4 separate regions of the Homo sapiens genome follow, and regions 2, 3 and 4 are each linked to region 1. The links come from fine-mapping of genetic effects on gene expression. A gene starts in region 1. Each other region holds a variant in brackets. All regions are shown on one strand. Distances are from middle to middle.

Region 1 (8,237 bases):
TGGGGCATATTTTAGCAATCAATTTAATAACTACACATTATCTTCTATGTACAAATTTAAAATTGCTTATGTGTAATGTGGATTTTTTAAAGAAAAGACTTAGCATCTGTTGAAGACTTGCCTAAGTTCATGTCTTCTCTTGGCCTGATGCAAACTCCAAATCATTGACAAAAAGACAACATAGAAACAAAGAATTTTAGCCCTAGAAAAAAAATTAAAAACCATCTCTTTCAAAGACTTGTTTCAGTAATATAAAGCATATCAGAAATCCAAATGTGTATTCATCATGGGAATATTTTCATGGATAATGTAAATTCTGCTATTCAAAAATACTGAATTTTTATGCATCAATAAGAAAGCAGTCCAAGAAAATAAATAATTTAATCAACATTATTCTTGCAAGAGTCCATTATAGGGCTATCAGTAGTGAATGATCCATTTTTATCAATTCAGTAAGAATACTAGTGTTTTTAAATGAATTCTTTCTGTAAGAAGGAGAGGGTTTTTTCCATCAATTCTGGTTCCAGCCTTGGCTTCTCCTTCAGCAGTTTCCTAGGAGAATATACTTTCACAAATCAAGTGGACCCAAATGTTGCCTGGTTTGGATACATGGCCAGAAACTGTGGGCTAATTCTGTGATTCATATCTTGGTCTCTAGCATGCCAGGGATGCCCACTGTGGGTCCCCGTTGAACACAGTTACTCTACACTTTGATTAAGCACTCTTAAGACTCAGCCACACTGATAGTACATGTTTGATTAAGACACACATTCCAAAGGATACAGAGACATAGATCATAGTGCTCAGTGTGTGATCATCAACATCTGTGAATCTCTTCTAAAATTATGAGTTTGTCACCACATACATCTTCAAATCTTCCTTTTTTTTTTTTGAAACAGTCTTGCTCCGTCACCCAGGCTGGAGTGCAGTGGCGTGATCTTGGCTCACTGCAACCTCCTGAGTAGCTGGAATTACAGGCGCGCACCACCATGCCCAGCTAATTTTTGTATTTTTAGTAGAGAAGGGGTTTTGCTGTGTTGACCAGGCTGGTTTTGAACTCCTGGCCTTAAGTGAATCACCTGCCTCAGCCTCCCAAAATGCTGGGATTACAAGTGTGAACCACCGTGCCCAGCCCAAATCTTTAAAATCTCAGATTCCTCTGAGCTCAGAGCAATTTTAGGAAGGTGAATTTACTGCAATTTCCACTTGCATTCTGCTAAATCCATGCATCCAGTTTGAATCCATAAAGTTGGACTCCATTAAATAAATCATCCAGCAGGGTGCAGTGGCTCCCGCCTGTAATCCCAGCACTTTGGGATGCCGAGGCAGGTGGATCACAAGGTCAGGAGATCGAGACCATCCTGCCCAACATGGTGAAATCCTGTCTCCACTAAAAATACAAAAATTAGCCAGGTGTGGTGGTGTGCGCCTGTATTCCCAGCTACTCAGGAGGCTGAGGCAGAAGAATTGCTTGAGCCCAGGAGGCGGAGGTTGCACTGAGCCAAGATAGTGCCACTGCACTCCAGCCTGGGTGACAGAGGGAGACTCCATTTCAAAAAAAAAAAAAAAAAATTATCAAAATTTAAAATGTTTGCTCTCAAGAGACAGCATTAACAAATTGGAAAGACAAGACAAAGACTAGAAAGAATGTTCGAAAAATGTAAATCTGAAGAGGACTTGCAGGAAGACTATTTTTAAAAACTCTTACAACTAATAAGACCAAAAAATAAAGAAATGAACACAAATTTGAAATAAAATATATTGATGGACAATAAGCATACGAAAAGCAAAATTCAACATCACTGGACATCAGAGAAATGTAAAATAAAACCACAGTGAAATACCACTTACACACCCACCAGAATGGCTAACATTGTAAATTACTGACAATACCAGAAGTTGGCAAGGATTTCAGGCAAATTGAATCTCACATATTGCTGGTAAGAACATAAAATAACACACTCACTTTATAAAACAGTTTGACACTTTCTTATACTGTTAAACATACCCCTACCATATGACAGCAATTTCACTCCTAAGCGTTTATCTAAAAGAAAACATATCCCAGCAAAGACTTAGAAGTGAATGTCCGTAACAGATTTATTCATAAACAATCCAAGTATCTATTAAGATGTAAACAAACAAATCAGGGTATATACATACAATGGAATACTACTCAGCAATAAAAAGGAATGTGTTTCTCATACACCTAATAACAAGGATGCATCTCAAGCAACATGCTGAGTGAAGGAAGTCAGACCCGAAAGAGTATTTACTCTATGATTTCATTCATATGAACTCCCACTGCAAAAAGGCTGCAGGAGAACAAGGTTGTAAACAAGGAGACCAATTAGGAGGATGTTGCAATAATACAGTTGGAAAATGGTGGTGGCTTAGACCAGAGTGGTTGCAAAAGAGGTGATGAGAAGTGGTTCCATTCTGGATATATCATGAAGGTGAAGCCAACAGAATTTCCTGAAGGATAGAATGCAGGATATCTCAGAAAAAGAGAAATCAAGGATGACTCCATGGTCCTGAATCTGAGCAAATAGAAAGATGAAACTGCTTTAACTGAGATGGTGAAGGTGGGTGGAGTAGGTTGGGGGATGATAACAGCAGTTGTGTTCAGTTTGAAACATCCATTAGATGTCCAAATGAAGATAGCAAGTTGGCAGCTGGATATATAGGAACAGTTCCAGGCTGGAGATATAAATTTGAGAGTTTTCACCCCATTTTTCTGGAAAAGTGGCTGGGAACAGGTAGAAAGAGTTTAAGAGAAACAGGAAAAACCATGTGCACAGATCTTCTTACTGTACAAAAAGTAAAGATCCATTTAAAAAAAATCTGGAGGTCATTAATGACTTGGGGGAAAACACTAGAATTTTGATAGTAAAAATATTTGATACAATTACCAAAACTCTGTATACTCAAGTAAGGTTTAGGGAGGGTTGTACACCTCCCCTCTGATCTTGTCCAATACTGTGTGGCTTGCTACCAAACTGGCAATGTCTAGGTAACCCACACTGGATACCCCAGAGATAAAGAGAGCAGCTTCCACCTGATAACCTCCCTCTCCTGCAGTCGCTACCACCCTCCCACCTTGAGTCAGCAGGAAAGGAAAGGAGCTTTTCCTCTCCTCCTGAGCTCTGCCTCCTGCTCAAGGACAGAGTCAAAGTTTTAACCCCTTCAGTTTGTAAGTTTTCTCATTCATGAAATTGTATTTGGCCATTTGCTTCTTAGAAGACAGCTGCCTTGGAAGCAAGCTATTAGTATGACTTTAGAGTTGGAGCCTTCAGAGGTAACTGCAATTTGTGTGGTATGATTTGATAAAAACAGAAAAAAAGATTTTTCTCTCCAGATTCCTGAAATTCCACTATGAAAGGTGAAAGTGAAATGCCCAACTTTGAATGAGCAGTATTGGAGATTTCACTAAGTCAATAAGTGAAGAAAAGAGAAGCTATAGATGAAAAAAGAAACCCATAAAAAGGGAGACTTTTTATTATATATTGACAAATTATAGTTGTATATATTAATAGGGTACAAGGTGTTATGATTTTTTAATACAATGTGTAATAATTAAACCAAGCTAATTAATATATCCATCACCTCAAATATTTGACATTTTTTGTGATGAGAACATTTGAAATTTACTCTCTTAGTGATAATGAAATATACAGTACTCAATTATCAGCTTTATTCACGACACCGTGCAATTGAACTTTAAAAAAATCAAACTTTTCCTCTCTTTTTTTTTTAGATGGAGTCTCACTCTGTCACTCAGAGGGATGATCTCAGCTCACTGCAACCTCTGCCTTCCGGGGTTCAAGCGATCATCCTGCCTCAGCCTCCCGAGTAGCTGGGATTACAGGCACGTGTCTAATTTTTGTATTTTTAGTAGAGATGGGGTTTCTCCATGTTGGCCAGGCTGGTCTTGAACTCCTGACCTCAGGTGATCTGCCCACCTTGGCTGCCCAAAGTGCTGGGATTACAGGCATGAGCCACTGCACCCAACCCTTATTCATCCTATCTAATTGAGGCTTACACTCTTTGACTGTTATCTCTCCATTCCCTGCAACCCTAGCCTCTGGTAACCACCATTCTACTCTCTGCTTCTATGAGTTCAATTGTTTTAAGTTACTTTCAGATACTTGAGAACATGTGGTATTTGTGTTTCTACATTTGGCTTATTTCACTGTGCATAATGTTTTCCACTTCCATCCATGGTGTCACAAATGACAGAATTTCTTTTTTAAGGCTAAATAGTATTCCACACATACACACAGACACATAAAATGGAATACTATTCTCTTTTAAATTTTGTATGCCTAATAATTCATGGTTAAAGGACAAGATAATAACTATTTTTGAGTATCCCGCTGTGGAGACACGATCTCCTTTGATCCTTGCAGCAATGTGTAAGGTAAGTGGCATCATCTTCCTTCTATTAATGGTAGAACTGAAGATCAAAGAGAGTGTCTAACTTGCTTAGGGCTACATAGCCAAGTGGTGAAGCTAAACTCAGTCTAGGCTTACTTGATAGTACACTAACATTAAATGTCTAGGAGTAAATATCTAAAACAAACTGTAAGTCTTCTCTATTTACCATACAAATTATTCAAGTGAACTGCCATTTTTGCCTGGCTTGAAAGATACTTTTCAGAAGAATGGGCTCATATACACATGCACGCGCGCACACACACACACACAATGGAATACTATTTAGCCTTAAAAACGCATATATATCTAAAATATATGTGTGTACATATTTTATATATATATGTGTTTATATATATAATATATATTATATTTGTATACACACACACATATATGCCACATTTTCTTTATCCATTTATCCCTTGATGGACACTTAGGTTGATTCCATATCTTGGCAATTGTGAATAGTGCTGCAATAAACATGAAAGTACAGACGTCTCTTCAACACACTGATTTCAAATCTTCCCAGTAAATACCCAGAAATGAGATTGCTGGATCATATGATAATTCTACTTTCAGTTTTTTGAGAAACCTCCATACAATTTTCCATCATGTTTGTACTAATTTACATTCCACCAACAGCATACAAGCATTCCCTTTTCTCCATTCTTGCCAACACTTGTTATCATAAAGGGAGGTTTGAGAGACCATAAAACAAACCCCACCTCACAATTTTGTTAGTGCAAGTTCTATTTGGCCTATTCCCAACACTAAGCACACAGTAGGTGGCAAATATTTGTTGAATGGATGAATTCTCATTTTTCTCCATTTGTGGAAGCAGACACCTCCTCAAAAAAAAAAAAAAATCCGAAAGAAAAGGTAAAGGAAACAGTTCTATGAATGGGGGTTAATTTACTCTCCTAGCATTCACTTATTGGGAAAAAAAGTAACAGCAGTTTCTAGAACCCTCTGGTCTCTGAGGGAGATGCTGTGTTCCCCTCCTCAGAGAAGAAGAAAACGCACTAGAGAGTGGGAGCATCCCCAAGGCTGAAGCGCATCCAGGACATCACATGTCAACGTGTCCTCTCTGGCGTGGGGTCCCCGCGAGTCTGGGAAACGAGGAGCTGGCAAGGGAGGGCAAGCGGGGGCGGCAAAGAGGGCCCCTGGAGCAGGGGGCGCGGACCTCGCTGCGCTGCGCGCTCTACCGCCGGGCTCGCAACGCTGGGCTCAGCGCTCGCGCCTCCCTCAGCTCTCTCCTCCGCCCCCCTTCGCCCTCCCCCTTTCCCTCCCTTTCTCCTCCTCCTCCTGCCGCCGCGGCCGCTGCCGGACTTCGCCAGATCAGACCCACGGGGCTGCCCTCCCCTGCGCACTCCCCTCGCTGCCCGGGCCCGGAGCGCAGCGCGGCCGCACAGGTAGGAGCCCCCAACGGGGGGTCGCCCCGAGCGAGCCCAGTACTCACTGGGCCGCGCGCGGGAGAGTGAGGTGGGGTGAGCTGAGGGGTGTTGAGTACCCGAGAACTGCCCTGGACTGTGCAGGGTGTCTCGGGCAGAGAGGGAGGTGGAGGTGTGCAGCCTCGGAATGCGATCTGTCAGCAAGTGCGAGTACTCGGGTGACATCTGTTGGGATGGGCATGTGTGTGCGCGCCGACAACCAGCCGGCAGGGCTTTGCCCATAAACGTGGTTTTGAAAGTTTAGGGGACCAGTGTGCGAGATTTAAGCCGCACCTGGATTCCATAGGAGCTGGTTAGAAGCTGGGACGCTGAGCAGCTCCAGGGGACCGCCGCGTTAGCTTGCTGTTAAGAAAGGGGACCTCATCTCCCTGCCGGGCCAGGCCGCCCGCCCGAAACTGGTACCTTGGGCTGCGGTGCGATCCCTGGTTCCGGTCCTAGGCAGCCTGAAACCGAAGGTAGCGTGTCGGGGACCCAGACTGATAAGACAAAAGAGAATCAGTCGCTTTGGGCTGCCCCTCCACACAACCTGGGACTTTTAAACAAAGCTGTGCGCAGAGAAAGGCGTGGAAATGCCACTTTGAGAGTTTGTGCTGGGGGATGTGAGAAGCTCTGAGACATGTGAGAAGGTCTAGTATTCTACTAGAACTGGAAGATTGCTCTCCGAGTTTTGTTTTGTTATTTTGTTTAAAAAATAAAAAGCTTGAGGCCAAGGCAATTCATATTGGCTCACAGGTATTTTTGCTGTGCTGTGCAAGGAACTCTGCTAGCTCAAGGTGAGTATACTGGGAAAGCCTTAACGTTCTAGAGAACAGAGTTTTGCAGCCCCACCTCCATCCCCCGGGGTGTGGGACTGGGGGGCAGGAAATGCACCGTCCCCTTTGAAATGGATTACTGTTTTTTCCTTTCGACCCCCTCTTTCTGCAGCCTGCTTTGTAGGTGCAGTATAAAATGCACGCTGAATGTCTTTTGTATGTAAACAGCGTAGCAGGATGGAGTAACGTGAAATGCAATTCTACAGCAGTTTTTACGTCTTTGCTGCCTCGTTCGTTGGCTACCGAGAAGGTTCAGGAGGGGGAGGGGAGATGAGAAAGCAGATTGGAAGTTGAGTATGGTGGAGCCTCAGCCTCTCCCACCCTCCTTTCCTCGCTTGTGCTCACTGCTAAAGTTTTGTTACTTTCCCCGCAGCAGATACTAAACATTAGTTTGTCCTGTATTTTCTTTGAGATTCACAATGTTGAAAGCCCTTTTCCTAACTATGCTGACTCTGGCGCTGGTCAAGTCACAGGACACCGAAGAAACCATCACGTACACGGTAAGGGGTGATGGAATTTGAAATAAGTACGGTTCAGCGGGATTCTGTGACAAAAAAAGACTTTACACACCCCTGCCAGTGTATTTGGGCTATACTCTGCTGAGGGTGATAAATTAAACAACACTTCATTCATGCTTCATATCTAAGATTCGTTGTAAATTGCCCCCTTGATCCTTTCAAAAGTTCATTGGGCTCACCACCTAAGATAGGAACCAACATGTAATCATTTGTGCAGGGCTAAAAATGGGATCCGTTCAAAAACTAAAACCAAAGAAAGTTACATGTTTCCAAAACATTCAACAAATTAATGGGTGTAAGGAACTGGAAAACCTGGACTCCTACCACATGCAGATAAAACCAATACGTGCAGAATAAGACTCAAGTCAAGTAAGAACGTTAAACACCATAAAGACACATGGCCTTCTTTGTGTACATGACATGCATTCTCAAGTAAGTGGCCTTTATTGAATTTATAAAGGCTATATATTCATTCTTTTTGTATAACTTGATAATTCTAATAAATAAAGGCAGACAACAGTTTATGTGTTACCAGGATGCATATTGGCTAAAGTGGTTTTAAAACGTAATGTGTGCAACTCCGTTTTGCATTTTCTAATTAGCGTCTCTGATATTTCCAAGTAATATTTGATTAGTTAGTTGCATAGGTGTAACCAATGTTTAATAAAATATTAAAAAGATCACCTGACCCCTCCCACTGCTACAAATAGTTGTGGTGAGAACAGAGAAGGACAGTACTGACTTCACTTCTGGTGAGTTTGTTTGCACCTCTGTTCTGTGTTTTCTTGTCTTTAATCAGTGTTAGGCAAATGACATTTGTCCTGGATTGGAATATGAAAAGCACATTTTTCTACTGCTCCCAGTTTAAAATTAAGTAATCCTACTCGAAAGAATGTGAAAAATTTTTGAAAAGAAAACTCTTAAAAATGAACTAATGTCAATTACTGATAATAAACATTATCTCACTTTTTGGTACCACATTATCCCTAGAATGTTAGTATTCATCTGGCAAATGTTCCTTT
Region 2 (8,237 bases), 78 kb before region 1:
CACGCCATTGCACTCCAGCCTGGGCAACAAGAGCAAAACTCCATCTCAAAAAAAAAAAAGTTTAAAAGTAAGGGTATGAAGAAAAAAATACCATGTAATATTAATCGAAAGAAAGCAGAAAATCTGTTTTTAAAAAAGCAGGAGTAGCTATATTAATTTCAGAGAGAGCCAACTTCAGAACAAGGAAAGTTAGGAGGGATAAAGAGAGCTATTCCATAATGATGGAGGGGTCAGTCCTCTAAAACAACATAACAATTTTTAACGTGTATGCACCCAACAGAGCACCAAACTATGTGAAGCAAAAACTGATAGAAAGGCAAGGAGGAACAGATAAATCCACTATTATAATTGGAGACTTTACCACTATCAGAAATGGACAGATCCACTAGGCAGAAAATCAGTAAAGACATAGTTGAACTCAACAACACCATCAATCATTGGGATATAATTGACATCCATAGATTATTTCATCCAACAACTTATTACACATCCATCTCAACCTCACATGGAGCATTTGCCAGGATAGAATACTTTCTGGGCCATAAAACACATCTTAAAATATTTAAAAGGATAGAAATCATACAATGTATGCTGTTAGAACGTAATGGAATTAAAGTAAATATCAATAACAGAATGACAACTGGAAAAGCTCAAAAAACTTAGAGACTAACAAACTTTTAAATAACATATGGGTCGAAGAATAAATCTCAAGAGAAATTGAAAATATACAGTTTATCAAAATTTGTGGAATGCAATGAAAGCAACATTTAGAGGGAAGCTTATAGCATTGAATGCATATATTATGAAAGAAGAAAGATCTGAAATAAATAACCTAAGCTTCCACTTTAGGGAACTAGGAAAAAAAATTAAATCCAAGGAAAGCAGAAAAAAATAAAAATTAAAGCAGAAATTAATGAAATTGAAAACAGGAAATCAATAGAAACATCCAACAAAACCAAATGCTGGTTCTCTGAAAAGATAATAAAAGTGATAAATCTCTAGCCAGGTTAAATAAGAAAAAAAGATAAGACTAATATCTCAATGATAAGCACTAATATCAGAAATGAAGTAGAGGACATCATACATATACCACGGGCATTAAAAGGATAATAAAGGAATATTACGGACAACTCTATGCCCACAGATTTGATAATCTGGATTAAATGGACCAATTCCTAGACACAGCTTGCCAAAAGTCACACAAACAGAAATGGACAATGTGAATGGCCTATATCTATTAGTTAAATTAGATCAATAATTAATAACCTTCCAACACAGAAAGCACAAGCCCCAGATAAGCTTGCCCATGAATTCTACCAAACATTTAAAGAACAAATTATATTAGTTTTCTACAGTCTCTTTTAGAAAATAAAAACAGAGGGAATACTTCCTCACTCATTCCATGAGGCCAGCATTACCCTAATACCAAAGTCAGACAAAGGCTTTACAAAAAAAGACTTCAGACCAATGCCTCTCATGAAAAAGGATGCAGAAATCCTCTACAAAATATTAGCAAGTCAAATTCAACAATGTATAAAAAGAATTATACACCATGACTAAATGTGATTTATCCCAGGTATGCGAGGATGGTTCAACATTTGAAAATTAATTAATGTAATCTAGCGTATCAGAAAACTAAAGAAGAAAAATCACATTATCATATCAATGGATGCAGAAAAAGTATTTGACAAAAGCAATGCCTATTTATGGTAAAAAAAAAAAAAAGAATCTCAGCAAACTAGGAATAGAAAGGAACTTCCTCAACTTATAAAGAATATCTACCAAAAAAACTACAGCAAACATCATACTTAATGGTGAGAAACTCAAAGCTTTCCCACTAAGATCAAGAATAAGACAAGAATGTCTCTTCTCTCCACTGATTTTTCACACCATACTGGCAGTTACAGCTAATGCAATAGAACAAGAAAAGAAAATAGAAAATATACAGATTGGGAAAGAAGAAATAAAACTGTCTTTGTTTGCAAATGACATGACCATATATATAGAAAGCCCAAAATAATCAACAAAAAAACTCCGGGAAATAAGCAATTATAGCACGGTTGCAAGATATAAGGTTAATATATAAAAGTCAATCACTTTCCTATATACCAGCAATGAACAATGAAATTTGAAATTAACAACACATTGCCATTTATATTAACACCCCAAAAATGAAATACTTAACTATAAATCTAACAAAAGATGTACAAGATCTATATGAAAAACTACAAAACCCTGATGAAAGATATGGAGGAAGAACTAAATAAATAGAGAGATAGCCCATGTTCCTGAGTAAGAAAACTATATTGTCAAGATGTCAGTTCTTCTTAATTTGAACTATAGATTCAAAGAAGTCCCAATCAAAATCCCAGAAAGTGATTTTGTGTATATTGACAAACCAATTCTAATGTTTATGTGTAGAGGTAAAAGATCCAGAATACCAACTCATTATTCAAGGAGAATAAAATTGGAGGACTGACACAACCTGACTTCAAGACTTACTGTATCACTACGGCAGTCAAGCCAGTGTAGTACTGATGAAAGAATAGGTGAATAGATTAATGGAACATAATAGAAGGCCTAGATATAGACCCACACAAGCATGGTTAGCTGATCTTTGACAAAGGAGCAAAGGCAATACAATGGAGCAAAGAGTCTTTTCAAGAAATAGTGCTGGAGCAACTGGACATCCACATGCAAAAAATAATAATAATAATCTCGACACAAATCTTATATCCTTCACAAAAGTTACTCATAGTGGTTCATAGGCCTAAATACAAAATGCAAAACTATAAAACTCCTGGAAGATAACACAAGAGAAAACTTAGATGACCTTCGGCATGACATTGACTTTTTAGATATAACCCCAAAGGCACGACCTATGAAAGAAATAATTGATAAGGTGGGCTTCATTAAAATGTAAAACTTCTGCTCTGCAAAAGATTATGTTAAGAGATAGTGAGTAGATAAGCCACAGACTGGGAGAAAATATTTGCAAAAAAAAATCTGATAAAGAATTGTTATCTAAAATACACAAAGAACACTTAAAACTGAACAATAATAAAATGAACCCAATCTAAAAATGGGCAATATACCTGAATAGACATATCACCAAAGAAGATATAATAAGTAGCATATGAAAGATTTTTGATATTGTATGTCATTAGGGAACTGAAAATTAAAATGAGGTACCACTAAACACCTAAGAGAGTGGCTAAAATCCAGAACACTGACAGCACCAAATGCTGATGAGGATGTGGAACAACAGGAACTCTCAGTCATTGCTGAAGGGAATGTAAAATGGTACAGCCACTTTGGAAGACCGTTCATCAGTTTCTTTAAAAACTAAACATACTTTTACCTTACAATCCAGCAATCACGCTCCTAGGTATTTACCCAAAGGAGCTGAAAACTTACGTCCTCACAAAAACCTGCACATGGATGTTTACAGCAGCTTAATTCATAATTGCCAACACTTGGAAGAAACCAAAATGTCTTTCAGTAGGTGAATGGATAAATAAACTGTGATACATCCAGACAAAGGAATATTATTCAGCACTAAAAAGAAATGAGCCAGCAAGCCATGAAAAGACATGGAGGAAATGTAAATGTATATTACCAAGTTAAGAAGTCAATCTGGAAAGGCTAAATGCTGTATGATTCCAACAATATGATATTCAGGAGAAGGCAAAAACTATGGAAACAGTAAAAACCTCAGTGGGTGGCATGAGTTAGAGGGGAGGAAGAGATGAATAGGCAGAGGATTTTTAGGGCACTGAAGCTATTCTGCATGATACTGCAGTGGTAGATACATATCATTATACATTTGTCAAAACACAGAGAACACCAGGAATGAACTCTAATGTAAACTGGATTTGAGGGTGGTAATGATGTGTCAATGTAGGTTCATCTATCATAACAAACGTTATCACTATGGTGGGGGATGTCGTTAGCAGGGGAGATTGTACATGGATGGGGATAGGGTATATAGGAACTCTCTATACTTTCCACTCAATTTTGCGTGAATCTAAAACTGCCCTAAAAAATAAAGTTTACTAATTTTTTTCTTAAAAAAGAGACTTCTCCAGTCCACATCTTGTAAGTTCAGGTTCAGGAGGTAGGTCTTGGTTGGGGCTTGGAAATCTGTCTTCTCCATAAATCCAAAATGTTTCTGATATACAGCCAGCGTTGAGAATCACTGGGTAGATCTTGACCTCTGATCTTTTAAGATGTAACTGTACTGTTCAATTTTTTTTTCAGGTCTTTACTGTCTGCTAGAAATAATCTTATAAATTCATCTGTACTAATGTTGGTGGCAGATAATGCTTAGATATTAAAAATTTGCATTTATAGAAGGGTCTTTTTCTACCTAAGTACTTAAACTAACAAGAGCCCCATATTATAGGCTGGCAGCCTCTAAACAGCCTACTCATAGAGGCAACTAAAATGAGGATTCTGTCTCAAAGCTCTGTTCCATCCATGCCTTCCCATGGAGCAAAGGAACAAACAAGATATCAACAATTGGAGAAATGGCAACTATAATTCCATCATTCACAACTTCAGTTTTCCTTCAAGAGAACAAGTGACACTGTTAATCAGGCCCTGCAAGCACAAATAAACAAAAATAATAATTTGAGAAAAGAAAATGAATGATGGCCTAAGAAGTCTAGTGTTTCTTCCACAACCAAGGTATAGTAGTCTCATCCTTTGGAGCTTTAGATGAACAGACTGAGGATCATAGAGTTTCTAACACAGCCCCTTCTTTCTATGCAACCCAGAATGATGTAGTTCTCTATTTTTAAAAGCAGCAAAAAGGAT[G/A]GAAGTGTTCTCCCTTGAAGCCCAGATGTTTTCTATCTTTCTAAGCTGCAATTATTTCAACACATTATTTTAGCTACACTTACATCAGATCAGAGCCACCTGTTATATCCTCTGCACACTTATGAGAGATTTACTGTTAAGTTTCTATTTATGGTTTATTTAGGAAAGTCAGAATGCAATTGAGAGGACGCTTTTAAAGTCATCTTGAGGTCCAAGGATGTGTGTATAGCAGATTAACAGATAATCAAGACACTGTGTTGTGTAGTGTAAACATAATCAACCCTAATTTTGTGATTCATTATTACATAAATTTGGACGTAACCCGGACTAAAAAACTCATCATCTGAAATTCAACTACATGCCTGAAAAACATAATATAACATTGTTATACTTTAAGGAAGTTATTAATCTACTCCTAAACCAAGTATTACAAAAAATTGTATTATAATGCATTTTATTGTAGGAGGATTCTTTATTACCAAGATTTACATATTTAAATATTCTCTCATTTTATCTTGTCTGAAATTAAATGTCACTGTAATATCAATAAAATATGTGAATATATATATATATATTTCCTTTCTAATGGTAAACAAGTATTTGCAAAAAACATCCTAAGTAATAGCCAATCATTAATAAATGTTTACTGAGCACCTCCTATAGGCCAGGAATTATTCCATGTGCTGGGATATAGAAGAGAACAAAATATATGAAGTCCCTGTTCTAGGAAAATGTTGGAATAAATTTATAGTTGACATTGACCCAAAACCCGACATTGTAGTGTTAATAATATCACAATATTCACAAGTTAGATTTTTGAGCTCTAAAGTAAATATTGCATATCATGCATTATTCCAGCACTTTAAAGATTAGCAGCAGGTGATGGTATTATCATAAGACCATTATTAGGCAGAAGAAAGATGGAGAGAATAAAAGTAAAAAGCACATCTCCTCATTCTACTCATCTAATCTTGTTATTACTTAGGCATAACTAAATTACAAAAGACTAAGAAACTCAACTGCAAAGTCTAACGTTAGATAAAATTGCTTGAAATGCAAGGATATTTACCTGGATTGACCATAAGGCTTTTGGTGTGACTAACACACTGGTAAAATAAGCACATATGAAACAAACAGCATAATTTGAGAAAAAAAAATGAATGATGGCATAAGAAGCCTCGTCTTTCTTCCATGACCAAGGTATACTAGTCTCATCCACTGGTTGTGGCTTGGGAAACTTCACTTTTCATCTTTTCCTTCATTCTCTATGGAGATGTGTGGCAAAATTAGAGAGTATCCATTCTCATTTATGCACCTATCTGAATCCCAGCTATAACTCCTACTTCCCATCAATTTTAATCTTGAATAAATATAGTTTTAAAATTTAGCAAGACCAGAAAGATCACTGTAGAATGACGACAACTTTTTTCTATCTTAAGTACAACTTCAAAGTGGCAGACTGGAAAATCTCTGCAGGCAAATGTGATGTCACTGAGGAAATCACACACTTACCCGTAGAGATTCTACAGTCTGACATCTTCAAGCATCGAACCATTTCATCAACTATGCTTTTGTTATAAGCAGTTCTTTGGCCTGGAATAAATCTAGCATGGCCAAAAAGCCAAGCTATAGCCCACTTACTGAACTTTAACTTCTTCTAAACCAAGGTGACTACATGCCTCGTGATGGTTGAATCCCACTAAATTAAATTTTAAAATAAGAAGGTTGTTTGTAACATGGCTTAAAGCAGTTGTTGTCAAAGTTTGATTCCCAGACTAGCATCAGCAGCGTCACCTAGGAACCTGTTAGAAATGCAAATTCTTGCACCCCACTAGAGGCCTCCTGAATCAGAAACTCAGAATGGGCCCTGCAATCTGTGTTTCAACAAGCTTTCCAGGTAATTCCGATTCATGCTCAAGTTTGAGAACCACTGGCTTAGAGAGAGCAAAAGATTATAACTGGAACACTAAAATAATCAGACAAAATAATATGTATTCATAAAAATATTGTCTAGAATACATTTCTAAAGTAGTGGTCTTAATAAGTATAAGCATTAATAATAATGGAAAGAAACATTTTCATTTAACTCTTACTTTGCCAATAGAATTGCTCAGATGTACTTATTTCCTTAGAAATAAGGAGTTAAGAAATCTTATTTAAGAGGAGAAAACGTTTTCATGTTTGGGAGGATTAAAAGGGTACTGACATCATTCAAGTCATGAGCCATAATTCTTATTAGATTTTATTGCTACATTCTTCGCACAGCTTTGGAAAGTTATTCCTAAGAGCACAAAATATGCACTTAGACTGCACACAGAGAAGGAAAATGCTCTCACAATGAAATTATTTTAGTCTGGCCCAGTAATATTTGAAAGACTCAAGATTTGTTCTCTCTGAAACATATCCTGTCAAAATAAGAGATGTTTGTTTAAATTTATAGTTTTCAACATCCTTTATAATTTTCCCTCCTAAGTTTAATTTGTCTGTAAGCAATCCAATTTCTATATACTAAAAAAATTATTTTCCCTTCTCCTCTAATATAATAAAAATGTCATGACTAAAAGGTAAAACAAAAAATAAAAAGTATTAAAAATTATTATTGAAATTGGTCTTCAATGACAATGAATAAAAGCCATAATTTGATTTTTATATATTTATAATAATGTTATGTATCTGTTAGTATCTGAAACATTGGTATGCCTGTTAATCAATAACTTCTGGTAGCATGTTAAAAATTCATCTTCAGTTTCATTCTTAGTGAATTCATTTGGATTATTTCTGGACCACACCAATTTCCCATGATGTGATGGAAAAAATTGTAACATTCAAAAATTGAATTAGATCACACACAAAATGTCAACTCACTCAGATTATAATAATAAGGTTTGGCTTGTTCATTGAAAAGTGGAGCCCAACTATGTCTAGAGTCTGTAAACTCAGTGCTGGAGATCAACAAGATGTTTTAGACACTTCACCACTTCAGGTGACCTGAAAGAAATACATTTCCTTAGATGAGGATAAGAAGGCTCTCCAAATATCAGGTTTCTTTGCTTTCATTGGATTTAATTCAACTCAATATTGATGCAATTGCTAATCAGAAGCTCCAACTAACAGTCTAAAATGCCTTTGATAGTAACAAAAGAAAAAAATTATTAACCATATATGCAATTTGTTACACAAAATATTTCAAAACATGAGGTTTCATTAAAGGAAACAATAAAAACATTGCTAGGAATTTAGCATCCTCCCAGGCAGTAGGAGTGTTTTAAGTATTTGATAACAACGACCAATAGTCACTATTGCATGAAGCACTCTACACATATTATTTAACTTAGTTTTCTCACAAACCCAGTGAAGAAGGTATTATTGGCACTCCTATTTTATAGTCCTTTTTTTCTCCTAACAAAGAAATTGAAGTT
Region 3 (8,237 bases), 36 kb after region 1:
TAGTATGATTCCTCTAATTCTGAAACTCATGAAAAGAGATTCGTAATTGAAGGTCACTGACAGGGTACCCCCTTACACCTATCTGGCAGCCTCACAGTCATCCACATTAACCACATATGTGCCTGAAGCCAAAGGTTTTCACTTAAAAGTTTCTATAAACAAATTATTACATTTCTAGGGGAAAAAATAATCCTAGGCTAATTTTAAAATTAACAATCTGAATTGCTCAATTTTTCCATTTTCTTTCAAAATGAAAACTTGGAATATGATAGACTCCGTGGATGTGCTCCATACAGTAACCATTTTAAGTATATATAACAGATCTAAGAACGTAGAGTTTGGTTTTTTTCATCCGTTTATTCATGCCAAGAAATTCTCTTTAAGATTGACTTAGTTTGGCATCAACCTTTAACACATCAACTGCATAACTGGCTTGGGTCTACCTGCCTTTGTACTCTGCAGACACACAAACCATGTATAGGGCATGTTTCTCCACCAGATTTTCTTTTTCAGAATTTGCACTGCCAAACAGACATTAAGCTACTCTAAATTCTTGACAAGTATGTAACTTTATAGGAACACAGTAGTGTATTTAAACATTGAAGAGAACTTTCTATTCATCCCACTCTTCTAACAGAGCCATTTAATCCTATCCAGAAAGATGAGTCCATTTTCAGACTCTCCTTTGATCCTACAGATTAGAGGGACAGAGAAGTCACCACTGAAAATTGAAAAAGGACGCAAGAAGAAATGGAGATCCATGACCATGGCCCCAAGAAAGCAAAAGCATGTTACTCAGGTTTCCCAAGATCCAAGTTAGAGAGGGGAGAAGAGATTAGAGCTAGAAAACAAATACTTTTAAAAACAGCATTTTGGAATTTATCAAAGTAGGCTTTAATGTCAGATTCATAAAAATGAAACAGATCTCAGAGAATGTATTTTCTGAGAAACTTATTTCTGTCCCCAATGGAAATGTAAAGTAAAATGCCCCAGACTCATTTTAAAGTCCAAAGACTATTTTATATGCTAGCTTTGAGAAGCCTTTAGAATTGCAACACTCACAGGGTCAGAAGTTTTTTTGAACAGATTTTCTTTTGTCCCTTATGGCCTTTAGGCACTCCTTGAGCTAATATTCAGGAGTTATTTGAATGCTGTTGCTTCACAACACTGAAAGTGTTTTAACATAGAGGGAGGAAAATCCCACAGCCTATGTCATCATAATTTATCAACAAATTAAGTCCAAGAATGCATGATAATTTATGGATAACTTGGAGGAAATGGTAACTATGGTATCAATTTGGAACAAAACCAGGAAGTCAGATCTCACTTGATTTAATGTTATCTGAAGGATTTGGGCACAAGTTTAACATTTTGATCACGGAATAATCTTATGCCTTAACATGATGAAGACTGAGTCTTCCTTCCTGAAAAATCCTTAATACAGGACAAGAAATAATGAGTCTAAAATTTCGTAACTGTTTTCCTGCTCAAGGAAGAGAGAAGGAATAAATAACCACTTACAATGAAACCTTTTCTTGCTACACTTCATCATGAGGCAAGTATTTCAGATGTTGGGAGATAGATTGTAAAGGTATAAAAGTTAACTTCACAGCTATACAAAGCTATACGTATGTGCACCATGTGTCAAATGAGAGAAAGTATAGATATTCAATGTTGTTGAATCCTCACAATTTTCTATATTAGAGTGGATGCAGCATCTGTTTTTCAATTTTTAATCATCAACATTGTCAAGCTTAGAGAAAAGTTGACTGTACAGTACAATTAACAAGGAACACCCACCGTTCAGATTCAAAAATTATTAAAACTCTGTCATATTTGCATGTAGCATGTTAACACTGTTTTTAAACACAGATGACTAGTCAAATCCCCCACCTCCTGCTGGGATCCACATTGAATCGTTTGTGTATTTCCAGTGATAGGAAACTCATTATCTCCTAATACATCAAAACAAATAATAACCACATTTTCTCTTACACTGAGCGAAAATCTGCCTTTCTTGCATTTCTAGCCATTTATTCTATTTCTGCTTTTTGGAAATACATGGTCAAGATCTTTTCCTCTTCCCAGGGAGAAGAGCAGAAAAAATAACTATTGAGTACTAGGGTTAGCACCTGACTGACAAAATAATCTGTACAACAACCCCCAGTGACACAAATTTACCTATATAACAAACCTGCACATGTACCCCCAAACCTAAAATAAAAGTTAAAATAAAAAGATCTTTTCCTCCTTCCCTAAGCTCCCTTTCATAACCCTGAAGATGATCTCAGATATAGATCTCATCTATGTTTTCTTCTCTTGTAAATTGAGTACAAAGAAAAAGATAAGGATGATATGAGGAGGTAGGGTAGGGCTATGGGCCTTCTTATGGGCTGGCATTTTTTTCCATAAATTTTGATCTGTAATATTTTCATTTTCATTCAGTTTGAGATTTCTCAAATTTCAATTTAGCTATCTTTAAACCATGGGTTGTTGTGAAGTATGTCTAATTTTCCAAAAGAAGGGCTTTTTCTAGTTTTGTTGTTGTTGTTGTTTCTATCTTATTTGCATTGTAGTTGGAGAACATAATCTGTATATTGCAAATTTTTGAAATTTATTTAGACTTACTTTAATGCCAGCATATAGCCATTTTCTTTTAATGTTCCCTCAGTATTTAAAAAGGCTATGTATTCTGTACTGTGCTCTATACATGTCAATTAGTTCAAAGGTTTTAATCACATTTTCTATTCATTTCTGAAAACATGTATTTATTCTTTCAATTACCAGGAGAAGTGTGTTAAAATCTTACTGTAACTGTGCTTGTCAATTTTTCCTTTTAGTTTCATTCATTTTTTTATTTGTCTATACTGAGCCTATATGATTAAGTGCATTTAAATTTAGAATTTCTACATATTCCTGGTAAACTGAAACTTTTATCATTATGTAGTATTTTTTTAATTCTCTAATAATCTTTTTTTTCCATAAAGTCAACCTCTTCTAATACTAATATTGCATAGCCAACTTTGTTTTGGTTAGTGTTTGCATAAATATTTTCCATCTTTTTTATTTTAATCTCTGTGTCCTTGTATTTAAATTATGTCTCTTGAAACAGTATATTTGGGTTTTGTTTTTTAATCAATTTGACAATTTTTGGTTTTTAGTGAGTGCATTTAGTCCATTTACATTTACTATAACCACTGATATGTTTAGGTTTAAAACTACCTACCATTCTATTTGCTTTTCATTTGTCCTGCACATTTTAGTTTCCTTTTGTTTTCTT[A/G]CCTTCTTCCTAAATTGATGGAGTATTTTGTATTATTCTATTTTCCCCTCTATTAGCTTTGTAGTTTTATTTTTTTTTTTTACCATTCCTTTATTGTTTTTCCTACAGATCATTTGAACATGCATCCATGACTTATCAAAATTTAAGATCAATTAGTACTTTTAACTCTTCCTGCGTGATTCAAGGACCTTAAAATATTTAAACTCTATTCCTCTTCCTGCCAAACTATATATGCTATTATTCTCATGTATTTTAATTCTAAATATTTTATAAATCCCAAAATACTTTACTATTATTGTTTTAGGCAGTCAGTACTTATTTAGATTTATCCACATCTTTATTCTTTTTATTGTGCTGGAATTTTGAATCAAAAAGAGAACAGAAAAAAGAATTTAGTGCAAATAAGGGCCCTGAGGCATATGGAGAAACATTGCGCAGAAAGATCATAAGTAAGATATAATGAAATGGGCAGGAAAATACACACAAGAAAGTAACATTCTCTGAAGGCAAGAGGCACAAAGGTATTCTTTATTGAAAAAGCTTTAGGCAGTTAATGAGTTGGAGAAGTATTGCCAAGTTACACTCACCAAATTTAGTAGTATGCCTCAATTTAGTGGGCACAAAAGCTGCTTATTGTTGAATGAACAACAAGCATAATGTAATTGGTTTCATACAATTAGGAGGTCAGCAAGCCATGCTTGTTATAATTGGCACTGCCATAGTCAGGGGCTTATGCGACCTCAAGTGATGATTTGCCTGAAGGAATAAGCCAGGAATGTGTGTGCTTTGGGCTCCAGAGACTTGACTAATCTGGCTGCAAGGCCTCAGGGAGGGAGGCCAAGAATCAAATCACAGTGCTCAGGCAGGGCTTGGTAGACTCAGTTGAATGTAGTCAGTCTCCATTCAGTTCATCACTCACCAGTGTTTGAGCCGGAGCCGGGGAAGTGGGAGATAGAGGAGAGGAGAGATCAAGTGGCCGGGAACCAGGAAAACACAATTGAAATGTCAGTGCAGAGGCATCCCATAATAGGGCGGGATCTTAATTCCTCCCAAGGCCATCCACTTTGAAGCAGGTCTCCAGCCTGTGTGGCATGGGCTTAAACCTTCACACAAAGGGTCTTTAATTTCTAGTACTGAGCCACTCTGGAGCAAAGACTGATGTTGCTGTTTGTTTCAAAATACAGGTTTACCTCCACAAGGTAGCAGACTGATGAATGGTTGTTAATATCCCAAATATCAGGGTTTTCTTTTCCCAAACATTTTCTAAATTAATAATTAAGTTTAAGAAGGCCTGTAATCCCAGCACTTTGGGAGGCCAAGGTGGGTGAATCACAAGGTCAGGCGTTTGAGACCAGCCTGGCCAACATAGTGAAACCCTGCCTCTACTAAAAATACAAAAAATTAGCCAGGCATGGTGGTGGGCGCCTGTAATCCCAGCTACTCAGGAGGCTGAGTCAGGAGAATCGCTGGAATCTGGGAGGTGGAGGTTTCAGTGAGCCAAGATTGCACCACTAAATGCTAGCCCAGGCAACAGTGCAAGACTCCATCTCAAAAAAAAAAAAAAAAAAAAAGTTTAAGAAGGAAAAAAAAAGAGTTTAGCTGGGTATGACATACTCACAAAGATGCCAGAAAATACTCCTAACAATTAACAATCATTTAACAGTAGACAATGTTGTTTCCTTGAGATTCTGAAAGCATAAGCTTCATGTTGCCAGTGGGCAAAAACAGCTGAAGAATGAGAAGTAAAGCCTTTGTTTCTTTGCTCTTCCTCTGTTTCAGCCTATGACCCATTGGTTCATCTGGTTTATGTGTAGTACAGATGAGTCACAGATTGGTCGTTCACATGCATTAGTTGGTTTTCTTCCCCATGTTCATGAACTGTATGCCTAACCTCATCCAATCATCTGGCAAATGAACACTGTTGTCCACAGAGGAAGCTACGTGAGGGGGGTCCATTTGCAATGCAAATCCGTCATCATTGCTAGAAAAGCAATTCGAAGTAGCATGATTTTTTTCCTATGAGAACAGCATATTGTAAAGTTCTGATAGAACACAATGCAATGCCAAGGGCTTCTAGGACACTTGATTTCGCCACTCTCTAAAACAAAGAAATGAACTATCAGGGAGGCTGATAATTTGTTGATTTTGGTGATATTTTTGTTTATCATTTAAAGCACACCAAATTATTAACAATCTGTTTTGCCAGAACTGATAAGAATCTAGAACTATAAATCTACTGCTGGCCATCGATTAAGACAGTTCTCTCTTGTTACTTAATATTAGTATTTATTTTCTCCACTAGAACTGCTTAGCTTGAGTGAATTCTAGCTGATAATTTCAGAAGGGTGAAAAGCTAACTAGAACTGGGCATTTGGCCCAGATAAATCTGATTCCAGTACTATGAAAGAAACAGCAAGGGAACTAGAAAGTCTTTGACAAAAAAATGTTGATAATTGGCTAAAAACTGGGGAGGGAAACAGAAAACTTGGAGAGCTATGAATGTTATTCTAAGTAGAAGAAAGACGCAAGGGAGGAATCAAGGTGCTGTGACATTAACAACCCTATCTTTAAGGCTAAAAAAAATTAAAAACACCTATAAATTCACTTAAAACTACTCTCCAGAACTCATAGGAAATAAGTCTTCCTCAGGACCTAAATTGCAGAAACAAAATGGAAATCTGGTGTTTGAATCTCTGCTCTGTGTGACCCTGGGCAAGTTCCCTCAACTGAGTCTACATTTCAGTGACATCCTTTTTTTTCTTCATCTGTAAACTGTGGATGAAGTAACTACCTCTTCCACAGGGCTATTAGGATTAAATAAGAAGCTTTGTAATTCTGCCTTCCCAATCAAATAATAGATCTTTTTATATTGCTAAGAATTTACCTATTTTTATACCAATTAATTTTAGAATGTTACCAAGTTTGTATATGAATCTGTATAAAATATTATATACTTTTTTCTAAATCAGATTTCAATCTACATAATTTATTATATTAATTACTCAGGTTATCATTATCAATAGCAAATACTGGATGAGTAAAACAGTAGTAAACTTCAGTGCCCTCAGGTCTTGCTGAAGTAATTCTTACCTTCCAGGATTATATTGAAAAACAAAATACTCCAAATACCTCTAAGACCTTCACTCAGTGAGTCCCTTTTATTTAAAAAGTTTCAGAGAGTAAGTAAAAAGAGTACTTTGGTAGGAACTAGTTTATCACCCTGTCTCTAGAAAGGATTGGGAGCAATCATTTTGAGCAGGTGGGTATCTAAATCATTAAGAATGTTGGGAGGAAGGAGGCCAATGGTAAAGAAGCTCTTCCTTCTAACAAACATGAATCCTTTACCTTGACCATTTTTCTACTTTACTCCATTTATGAGATTAAATCAGTTTGATTGAGGAAGCTAGGTATAATAAGGTTTTAAATCCACACAGATCAAGAAGTATCACCAACTTGAATTTAACCACTATCTTTTCTTTAACCACAAGAGTTCACAGGATAGCACCATTAAATAATATTTGCAAAGCATGCACAGTGCCCCACACAGAACTAGTAAAGATACGGTTATTTTACTCCAGGGGTTTACAGTCTGGAAACAAAAAAAGTATATTGTGAAGAATCTGAATACTTTTAAAAATCTGTGTGTTATTGTTGAGGATAGACTCTCTATTTCAGAGATGGAGAAACAAAGAGAAAAAATTGATACCATGACCCTAGATCACACAGGGAGTGACAGATTCAAAATAATTTCAGTCTTCTTTGTCCTATTACTAGTGCATTCTCATCACTAGTCTACAGTGGCTTATTCAAAAGTAGTTCTAAATTATTTCTTAAACCAAAAGCAGCACAAATTATAAAAGTCTAAATGGTACTCAACACCATTCAAGGTGCAGATAATTTTTGCCCATGAAAACATGCTAAAGGGACTCCATGTTGTGGTAAGTTATCAAATTATGGAAAGAACATTGCAGAGATTAAAATGTTGCATAAGAGAGAGAAAGCAGCATGAGTCAGGGGTTTGGGAAATATGAGTCAGACTGAAGGGAAGGAGCCAAAAACATAGAGAATGAGGGCCTAAGCAGGGACTTAATGGACACCACAGAGATGTGGACAAAGTTGTCTCCATTAACTTTGAGAGAAAATCAAATGTGCGGTTCCCTAGACGTGGGGGTCGGTGTGATAAAGAGGCTAGAAGAGCTGAGCAAAGATTAGCCTGTGTTATTTAAAGCAACTAACGGTGCCAAAGTCAGCAAGAGAGGGACCTACAATAGTATAAATCACTAGGAGGGAGCACGTGGGCACATTTTTGAAAAATGAGGGAATCACCAAATATTGCCATTAGCTATTGTTAATGTATTAGAATGACGAAATGTGTTATGGTATTTTAGGAAGCACAATCTATTATTTTGTTCTTTGGTAATGTTAACATTAGGCTCTGTCTACATAGTTCAGAGAGACTCCTTATGTTGTTCAATCCAGACTCTCTAATCCTGCCTTTAAGGCCTTGAATTTTGTTCACGACAGATCTAGCATTTCATGATCCTCTTCAACCAGGCACTGCACCAGGCTCCTCACACAGAGCCCCGGCAGCTGTGCTGACGCCATCTGTCTGCCATTCTTCTCATGGAAACCAGTTTTGTCTTATCAGCATTTTCTAATGTGAGCTGCTTTCTGCCTAGAAACAGCTTCCTTTTCCTGGCAACCCATGTATCTCGTCTTCTTCAAAATGCAGTGGAGAACCCACCTCTTCTGGCGAATCTGCTTTATACCTCATAGCCTCTGCACTCCTGGACTCACTTGCTCAACATCATTTTTCTTTTACTAACATCTTACTGATTTTGCTGTGTTTCTCAGATATACCTTGTTACTCTGCTTCATACATTTTTAGCTCCATTAGGTAAAACACTGATCCTACTTTTCCTGAAACTTTAGGTACCAATTCTCAGCAAATGGTAAT
Region 4 (8,237 bases), 46 kb after region 1:
TTTTATGAGTCCCAGTAAGTAAAATGTGTAATCACCAGTCAGTCCTAGGTGAGGCAAGTCTTGTTGCAGCTTTGTTTGGGTGTTGGTGGAGAAAGGGAAGGAAAGTAGTGGCAGTGAGCACAGTGGTATTTGTTTTTTGTTGTTGTTTGTTTTTATTAATTTAACTCACCTAATATTTTTATTAAATAACCCACTCAGAAGGTAAACAGACCTCATTCTTAAGAAGGAGTAGCACAGGTTTTTGTGTTTAAAATCTACTTAATGATACATTAATTCCACTGGAAATGTTAGCCTATTTATCAGACACTAAGAAATGAGCAACAAGAAAGTAGGAAGGAAGTCATAGGGCATCAGTTGTAGGAATGCAGCGGGGTGGAGGCAGTTTGCAGATAGATGTCAAAAAGAAAAGCCTCAGTCACTGCTGAGGCCTCCCTTAGAAAATGCAGCAGCCAGCCCAGGGCCTTGATCTGCTGCCAGAGGAAACTTGCCACATCTGAATCTAACATTGCCGTATCTCTCAGGACTGTTATCACTGCAAATGCTGGCAAATGTTCTTGACATAAAACAATAGATACTCTGCTGTCATTTCTGCATTAACGAGTCATAAAGCTCTGAAGAAACCCCAGTAAAAAGGTTTTCATCAAGTGCATCTGAGAAAATAATAAAAGACACAAAAAACAGCAGATAATTTCAAAGCAGGATTGTTGCACCATCGCATAGTACCTAAAAAGGACAGTTTGTAATCACTGACTTGAAAATAATACTAGTAGTAATTATAATAAATTTCAAAACAAAACAAAATAACAAAAACCTTAGCCAAAACTTTAAAACCAAGTTCAAAGAATTACGTAAGTGGATGCTTTATAGATTATTATCCAATAAATAGCCATACATCACTCAAGTATTTTTCATCTCCCCTCCCTCTTTCTTATCGAAAGAATCTCTCTTATCATTTCCACACCCAGCTAAGTGAAGCTGATTTCTGAGGACAACCCTTTTACAATCTCAACTTCATATATTATTATACTGCATAGTGTAAATGCGCAGTCCTCCTTGAAAATACAGAAAAGTGAAAGGCAAACCAACCTCAGGGTCTACTCTCAGAGATTCTTAGAGGGAAGACAGAAATTGGGTGAATTTTTTATTATTGATTCTTTCCCTACTTTTTCTTCCAACATACTACCATGAGTCTGCCACAGTGATGATCTAAGACCTCTGAAATCTGCCTCAGGGGTCTTAAATCATCACTGTGGTAGACCCAGGGTAGTATTTTGGTTTTTATACAAAAATTGTCATCTAGGAATCACAAGTTTTATGATATTGTTAATGAAGCTTAGAGTGGTTGTTGAAGAATGATGAAATTATATGATCCTTTTTTGTGTACTACTTAACTTCATGATATAGGAGAGCCGAATGAATATAAAAGTGATACAGATAAGGCAAAATTAGATTTTACTTATAAATTACTGTAAATATGAATGTACACACACAAATTTATATCACCTTTTGATCTGAAAGAAATTTCTTATAACTAGTTCATTATGCTATCACTGAGCATTTTTTACTTTTCTAGAACTGTAACCTGCATACTCATTAAGGCACATTTAGTAAATTATTCCAAGAAGTACACTGCTTTGAGAAAATATGGATTTTTAAACTACACAGGCTAGAGGAATATGATCAAATTGAATCCTTTGCATTCTGAAATTTGCAATGAAAGATTTATACATACATGTTGCCCTGCTGTTTGCAAAAACAAACAGCTACAGGGAACGTATAATATTAAAGGTTGATTACACCCAGTTATTGGTTAGATTTTTAGAAATTTGTCAATGGAAATTATCTCAAATACAATATATTGGATGGAAAAGCAAGTATCATACAATCTATTAAAATTTTTAACATACAAAACAATACCATATGTTCTAATGGATGCATCCCTGTCTAACAAAAGTACAAAAACATCTCAGGGAAGGATTCATTCCTACCGAGACAGTGGTAGCTGATGGGTCAAGGGATGAGGATGGTGTGAGGCTTTAGCTGTATCTGAAATGTTTCTTAACAAAACAAAATGAGCCAAGACCAACATGACAAAATGTTAGCATTTGTTAAATCTGAGCAGTACTCACTGGTATTTGCAAAATTATTTTCTGAACACTTGAAATAATTTATAATTTTAAACATTTCCAATGCAAGAACATTATAAACTTTTAAGAATAAAGTAAAAATTTAGCTTAAGAAGTGGCAAAATGGAGGAAATATCAACATCTTCACAACTGACAATTCTTTCTGTGTTGCATGTCTCTGACAGACATAGACGAGTGCACTGCAGGGACGCACAACTGTAGAGCAGACCAAGTGTGCATCAATTTACGGGGATCCTTTGCATGTCAGTGCCCTCCTGGATATCAGAAGCGAGGGGAGCAGTGCGTAGGTAAGTACCACAGTGCAGTGAGCACGGTCCTGTCTTGAGTACCTTAACTGTTTCAACCTCAAGCATTCCAATCAAAGCATTCATGTTTCTTTGGAGAGTGGTAGCCAATAATTCCTTATTTTTTTATAGACTACCAATCCATTTTCCACAATAACAAGAAACAACCTTAAAGGTTGAGCTATTCTGGATAACAAAGTGTTGGTTAAATGTTAGACGAAGCAAGAGCAGAAATTTGGGGTATGAATGGGACAATAAAAACAACCACAAAAAAATTTAAATTTGCTGTTTTGGGGGCCATCGCGCTAACACACTGGTACTGTGGGCTTCATTCACCATTCACTGCTGCAGAGCATAGCATAGCACAGCACATAGAGCAAATGGTGGAGTTGCATTCCAAGCACCAACCCCAGCTCGCTTTGAGACCTTGAGCAAGTTACTTAAATCCTGTGTCTCACTATGTTCACTTGTACTGTGGAGATGATACTAGGCCCTACCTCCAGAGCTCATGTAGGGAATGCTTAGAATAGTGCCTGTCCCTGTGCAGTAAAGCTGTTTGCTATCGTTGTATTCTGAGTCAACAGATGGGTATTAAAGGCTCTTTATACTGCAAGCCTTTGTAGGGTACCATGAGTACAAAGCCAAGTTCAGCACGTGCCTCTGCTGGAGGGCCTAAGAGCGTGAGCTCCCTGACAGCAAGACCAGGTCATCTTGTGTCACTGTGGTCTCCCCAGTCCCTGAAGTGTGCCCACCATGTGATGGAGGCTCTATGCGTGTGTTTTGAGTGAATGGAAGATCAAAGTATGAGGAAGCCAACTGGCAGATAGTGAAGTAAAATACAGTACTCTGGGCTCAATCATGAGGCCCAGCACTAGGCATGAAACTCTGACTGTCCATTTATTTACATACCCCTTCTTACCACAGATCAGTGAAAAAGCCTTATTTCCTCTTAGGAACAGAGGGTGAGGATGTGGGGACAGACAACCAGCGTCAGTTTTCGCCTGAGAATGTGAGCTGTTGATGTTCACATGTCAACACTGAGTTCCATGTGGGCCCCAGCCCAGTTCTGTCTGCCATAGGGCTGTGCCTAGATGCTGGGGTTAGTGCCCAGCCTCTGAGGAAGGCCCAGGGTTTGCTATAAATGAAGCTGTGATTTAAAAGAAGAGTGTGTAGAAAACTCCAGAGATAACAAAGTTTGGCCATTGTATTAGACAGGAAAATAAATATTTGAGGGCATAAAAAGTACAGAAAAAAGAACTAATCCAACTTAGTGTGGGGTGAATCAAAGATAATGGAACATACGGTCACAGCCCTTTTAATGTGGTAGGAGGAAATATTCCTAAACTCAGATCTAATCATGTGTCTTCCCCTCCTGCTTCCCTCACTGAGAGAATCAAGTCTACATTCCTCGACAGAGCATGAAAGGTCTTGCTCAATCTGATCATTGTCCAGTTCTGTTGCATAAACACCTCTCCCCCACCACAAAATATTACACCCCAGCTTTATTCCACCAGTTCCCCACACACGTCACACAGTGTTACTTACACTTTGGTGCCTCTATACAAGCTCTTTACACAACAAAAACATTCCCTCCTGGCAAATTCTTATTTCACTGTCAAATCCTAGCTTAGGATCACTTCCTCTGGGAAGCCTGCTATGATTTACCCAAATATAATTAGTTGCTCCTCCCCTGTGCCAGTACTTCTCAAATTATGATGAAGGATACTTTTTTGTAAATTTCCAATCTACGGCAGACCAATACTTCTGTAAAGCACAATAAAAATAATGTTGCACTAATGTCAAATTGCTATTTCTAAACAT[G/A]TACTCTCAGTTTCTGTATTTATTCATTGCAGACTGGTCCAAATAGCCCATGAACCAGCAGCAGTCAGCAGGCCACACTTCAAGTAGCATGGTGCTCCCTGTGTCCCATACACTCCTTTCTATTGTTGATCTTCTCATTCCATGGAATAATTTGTTTCATGCCTGTCTTTCATACCAGACAAGGCAGAACACATGTATACTGATTATCATTATAAACTTGGGGTGCCAAACACAGTACCAGCAAATAAGAATGGTTCAATGAATGTTTATTAGTTAAGAAGACATGCGTCACATATTCACCAAATAGTTATTGAGGGCTTACTGTGTAACAAGCATTGTTCTAGGAACTGGGATAATAGTAAACAAATTTTACAAATTCATAGCCCTCGTGGAGCTATTAGAAAGTATAATACCATTCATACAAATTAGCTATCAATACTAGCACCTGATGATAGTACTGAGGACTAGGAAGCACTATGCTAAAATTGCTCTTAATTAGTGTGAAGTTTCGATTTATTCGAATAATGTTTATTGAACACCTACTACTATGCCAGGCCCTATTCCAGATCTAACAATGAACAGACAAAAAACCCTCTACCTCCACCTCAAGGGGAGAATGTCATGCACTATAGTGAGGGAACACACAAGAAGCAAATAAACACATAACACAATGTCGAGTACTGTTAAGGACTACAAAGAAGTCTAAAGCAAGGTAAGGGAATAGATAGGGCAGAAGAACCTATTTGATATTGGTGGGAAAGGTGGCCACCCTGAGGAGGTGACATTTGAATGGACACCTGAACCAAAGTAAGGGGAAAAGCCATGTGAATATCTTCTTACTATTTATTTCAGTATTCAAGTTAAATCAAATATATCTTGCAGCTTATTAGCTCCCATTTATGTTTACTTGCTTTGTGCCAGTAACTTTGCCTACATTATGTCTTGTAACCCTCCCAATAATTCTACTCACAGAAGAGGAAATGCAAGCTCGAGAAGTTAAGACCAAGCTAGTAATTGCCAGAACAAAGATTCAGACTCAGGTTATCCTGAGGCCACTTGAGCACACTACTTAATTTTAGTTATTAAAGTACCAAAAGAGCCCAGCATAAAGGTTTGTTTTGTTTTGTTTTGTTTTACCACAAGGCAGTGTCACTATATAGCATTACATTGTATATGCATAATGGTTGTTTTAAATTACACATGCCATGTTGAAGTTGTCACAAAGTGTAGAATCATGAATTAATGAAATTTTATTATGCTTCTAAGATGTTAGTCCTACTTAGCAAGTTCTTAGTTGAGCATTTTATAGTTGAAAATATTTATATGAGAAGGACACAGGCTGGAACACTTCATCAAAGTGTCAAAAGAGCACTCTCAAGAGGTAACTTATTTAGCATCCAATTCTTCCACAGTGTTCTTTTATTTGATACACAAAAACGTCCTAAGATACACATGGCAAGCCTTGCTATCCACATCTTATAGAAGAAAAACCAAGATACTGAAGGCGTAAGTGACTTAGCCAAGGTCACCAGTTGAGCACAGCCCACAACTCTTTCTTCTTTGTTTTGTGCTGCACCATGCACTTCAGTAGTTCTTTTTTACTTCTGTAATTATATATAAGCTTTTAGCTCCCCAAACTGACATCTTATATATATATGCAATAGTCTCAATTATTTTGTTTTCTTTAAATCTCAATCCACCCACCAAGTTTATTTACCACTGAATGGCATGAACATTGAGTCTTTGTTCTTAACTTCTTAACTCAGAATACAAAGTATATTTAAAATACATATACCCTAATTTTAACAAAATAGGAAATTATTACTTTTAAAAAGAGATTTTCTCTACATAGGTTTTCTAGATAATGCTTTTCAGAGAATGCTAATTCAATAATTTGGTTCTCTTTGTGTGTGTGCCTGATAACCTAGACATAGATGAATGTACCATCCCTCCATATTGCCACCAAAGATGCGTGAATACACCAGGCTCATTTTATTGCCAGTGCAGTCCTGGGTTTCAATTGGCAGCAAACAACTATACCTGCGTAGGTAAGCCTTTTGAGAACTTGCTGATTTCTGTCTTCACAAAAGGAAACCCCATGCCATGTTGCAGTATTTCCAGTTTTCTATGTTCTTGAGTAAATAGTTTCCATCGACTTCCCTTCAGCAATCATAAAGCTTAAAAGATAATAACCAATCTGTGTCTTAAAACACATCAAGATGTGAACAGAAAACTTTTTAACTTTGGTTTTAGTTCTCCTCTGTGGATAGATCAACAAATTTAAAACTACAAATCAATTGATATACATACACCAGTCAATCAGCAGTGTGTGATATAATGCTGAAAGTGCCAAAGGGGTTACTACAAGTTCAAGTATATAAACTTTCCACTGAAAGTGCATCTGATTTTTACATGCCTCTTCTCCCCTTTCAGAATGCAATGTCACGGCACACAATTAAAAGATTGGCATGACATGGAAAAAATCTAGTGTAGGAAAAATGCCTTTTCACAATATTTTCAGTGCTTTAGAGCATTGCAAAACTCCGTATGGGTCTCAAAGGCTTATGTTATAATTGTAATGGAATTTAACAGAACCCATTTAAAAAGTAATAAATAGCACAGATAAATCTTCAGTACAGCATGCTGAGAGACCATATCAGTATAAGTGTCTTATATCAATTATTTATAGAATTGGCATTTTGTATCTGAACAACAAAAGAAAATCGATACCGGAGTGTATATTTATTAGAAGCATTAAATTCCTTTGGAAAGATTCATCAAACATCAAACTAACTGTCATTCCTAGAAAAAATATTTCGGTATTTCCAAAAGAAGTATATGACAGACGTTTGTAGTTGTTCCAACAAATATGAAACCTAAATGGATGTTCTCCAGTGAGCTTCTGCAGGGCAAATAATTCAGCTAGGGAATTACTCACTTGTCAGCAGATGACGTAGGTACAAAAGAGTAAGGATATGTTTAAAGTCTATATATATATGTGTGTGTATATATATACATATACATATATATATATATAAAACTTTTTTTCAGATATAAATGAATGTGATGCCAGCAATCAATGTGCTCAGCAGTGCTACAACATTCTTGGTTCATTCATCTGTCAGTGCAATCAAGGATATGAGCTAAGCAGTGACAGGCTCAACTGTGAAGGTAAAACTCTTCCCAGATAGTATGGAATAAAGTCCAATTCCTGTGACTGCTGTTGTTTTATCTGATTATGTACCCATTTATGAAAACAAACGCTTACCCATGGGAATTCTGTTCTAAAATCCAGTTAATGTAGTTCAGTTGTTACATTGCCTTTTTAGTGTGTTACCAAGAAAAAGGAAAAGAAATAAAAATAACTGAAATATTAGGTGCAGGCTGGCTCTAATAATTAGAAAGGGTGCTCTAGCATGTTGCGTCTCAGTGTGTTATCCAGTGACCAGGTATGTCAGCACCTCCTGGGAGCTTATGAGAAATGCAGAATCTCAGGCTGCAACCCAGACCTCCTGAGTCTGAATCTACATTCAACAAAAACTGCAGGTGACTGGTGTGCACATTTAAGTTTCAGAATAGCCAAGTGCATGTCAAAACATTAAAATAAAAATCAGGAGATCTGGTTTCTGGTTCTATTCCTGCTACTGTGTGACTTGGGCACATTTCTTGAGTTGCCTGGGTTTCACTTTCCACATGAACAAGAGGAGGGCCATTTAACTAGATTCATGACCTTCAGGGTCCATTGCATGTGCACATTTCGTTATATAATTCAAAAGGCATTAGACATCCTGAGGGGGATGCCACAGACACTTGATGTCCCTGACCTCCTCACGGTTCACTCAGCTTTACACAAAGCTCAAACCCCACCGAGAGAGGCCTCACATCATGCCATTACACTCAAAACTGAAAGAGGCTACCTCAGGACAGCTGCCTCTGCCCTTCTGAGTAAACTGTAGGGACATCACTATTCAGAAATGCAAAGCAT

Which allele goes with the higher level. Positions count from the first base shown, and alleles are read on the strand shown. Sizes are in standard deviations (SD) of each study's normalised expression. Not every link is listed here.
As copies of G replace A in region 3, the expression in cerebral cortex of the gene that starts at base 5,775 in region 1 goes up (small effect, 0.28 SD a copy in GTEx).
For the expression in subcutaneous fat of the gene that starts at base 5,775 in region 1, G is the low allele of the variant in region 4 and A is the other (small effect, 0.18 SD a copy in GTEx).

What was found. PIP is the estimated chance that this variant, and not a neighbour inherited with it, causes the effect.
Region 2: its variant is the best candidate, but not a certain one, in a credible set for the expression of EFEMP1 in lung (TOPMed, PIP 0.52).
Region 3: its variant is the best candidate, but not a certain one, in a credible set for the expression of EFEMP1 in cerebral cortex (GTEx, PIP 0.79).
Region 4: its variant is the best candidate, but not a certain one, in a credible set for the expression of EFEMP1 in subcutaneous fat (GTEx, PIP 0.50).

The regions. Positions count from the first base shown.
Region 1 is chr2:55,921,320-55,929,556 of GRCh38, reverse strand. It overlaps EFEMP1 (EGF containing fibulin extracellular matrix protein 1), which reads left to right and starts at 5,775. Exons shown (of 12, transcript NM_001039348.3): 1 at 5,775-5,846; 2 at 6,618-6,658; 3 at 7,110-7,197. The coding sequence starts at 7,117. RefSeq lists an enhancer at 5,716-6,215.
Region 2 is chr2:55,998,831-56,007,067 of GRCh38, reverse strand. The region is part of intron 2 of MIR217HG (MIR217 host gene); the gene reads left to right. MIR216B (microRNA 216b) reads left to right here and starts at 6,273; the gene lies at 6,273-6,354. The region is part of intron 3 of LOC105374690 (a long non-coding RNA gene); the gene reads right to left. The variant G/A (reference allele first, on the strand shown) is at 4,819.
Region 3 is chr2:55,884,949-55,893,185 of GRCh38, reverse strand. The region is part of intron 5 of EFEMP1 (EGF containing fibulin extracellular matrix protein 1); the gene reads left to right. Among named protein-coding and RNA genes, the nearest start is that of EFEMP1, 35 kb to the left of the region's middle. The variant A/G (reference allele first, on the strand shown) is at 3,281.
Region 4 is chr2:55,875,809-55,884,045 of GRCh38, reverse strand. It overlaps EFEMP1 (EGF containing fibulin extracellular matrix protein 1), which reads left to right. Exons shown (of 12, transcript NM_001039348.3): 6 at 2,312-2,434; 7 at 6,181-6,300; 8 at 7,304-7,423. LOC112268416 (a long non-coding RNA gene) reads right to left here. Exons shown (of 4, transcript XR_002959388.2): 4 at 6,361-6,429. Among named protein-coding and RNA genes, the nearest start is that of EFEMP1, 44 kb to the left of the region's middle. The variant G/A (reference allele first, on the strand shown) is at 4,253.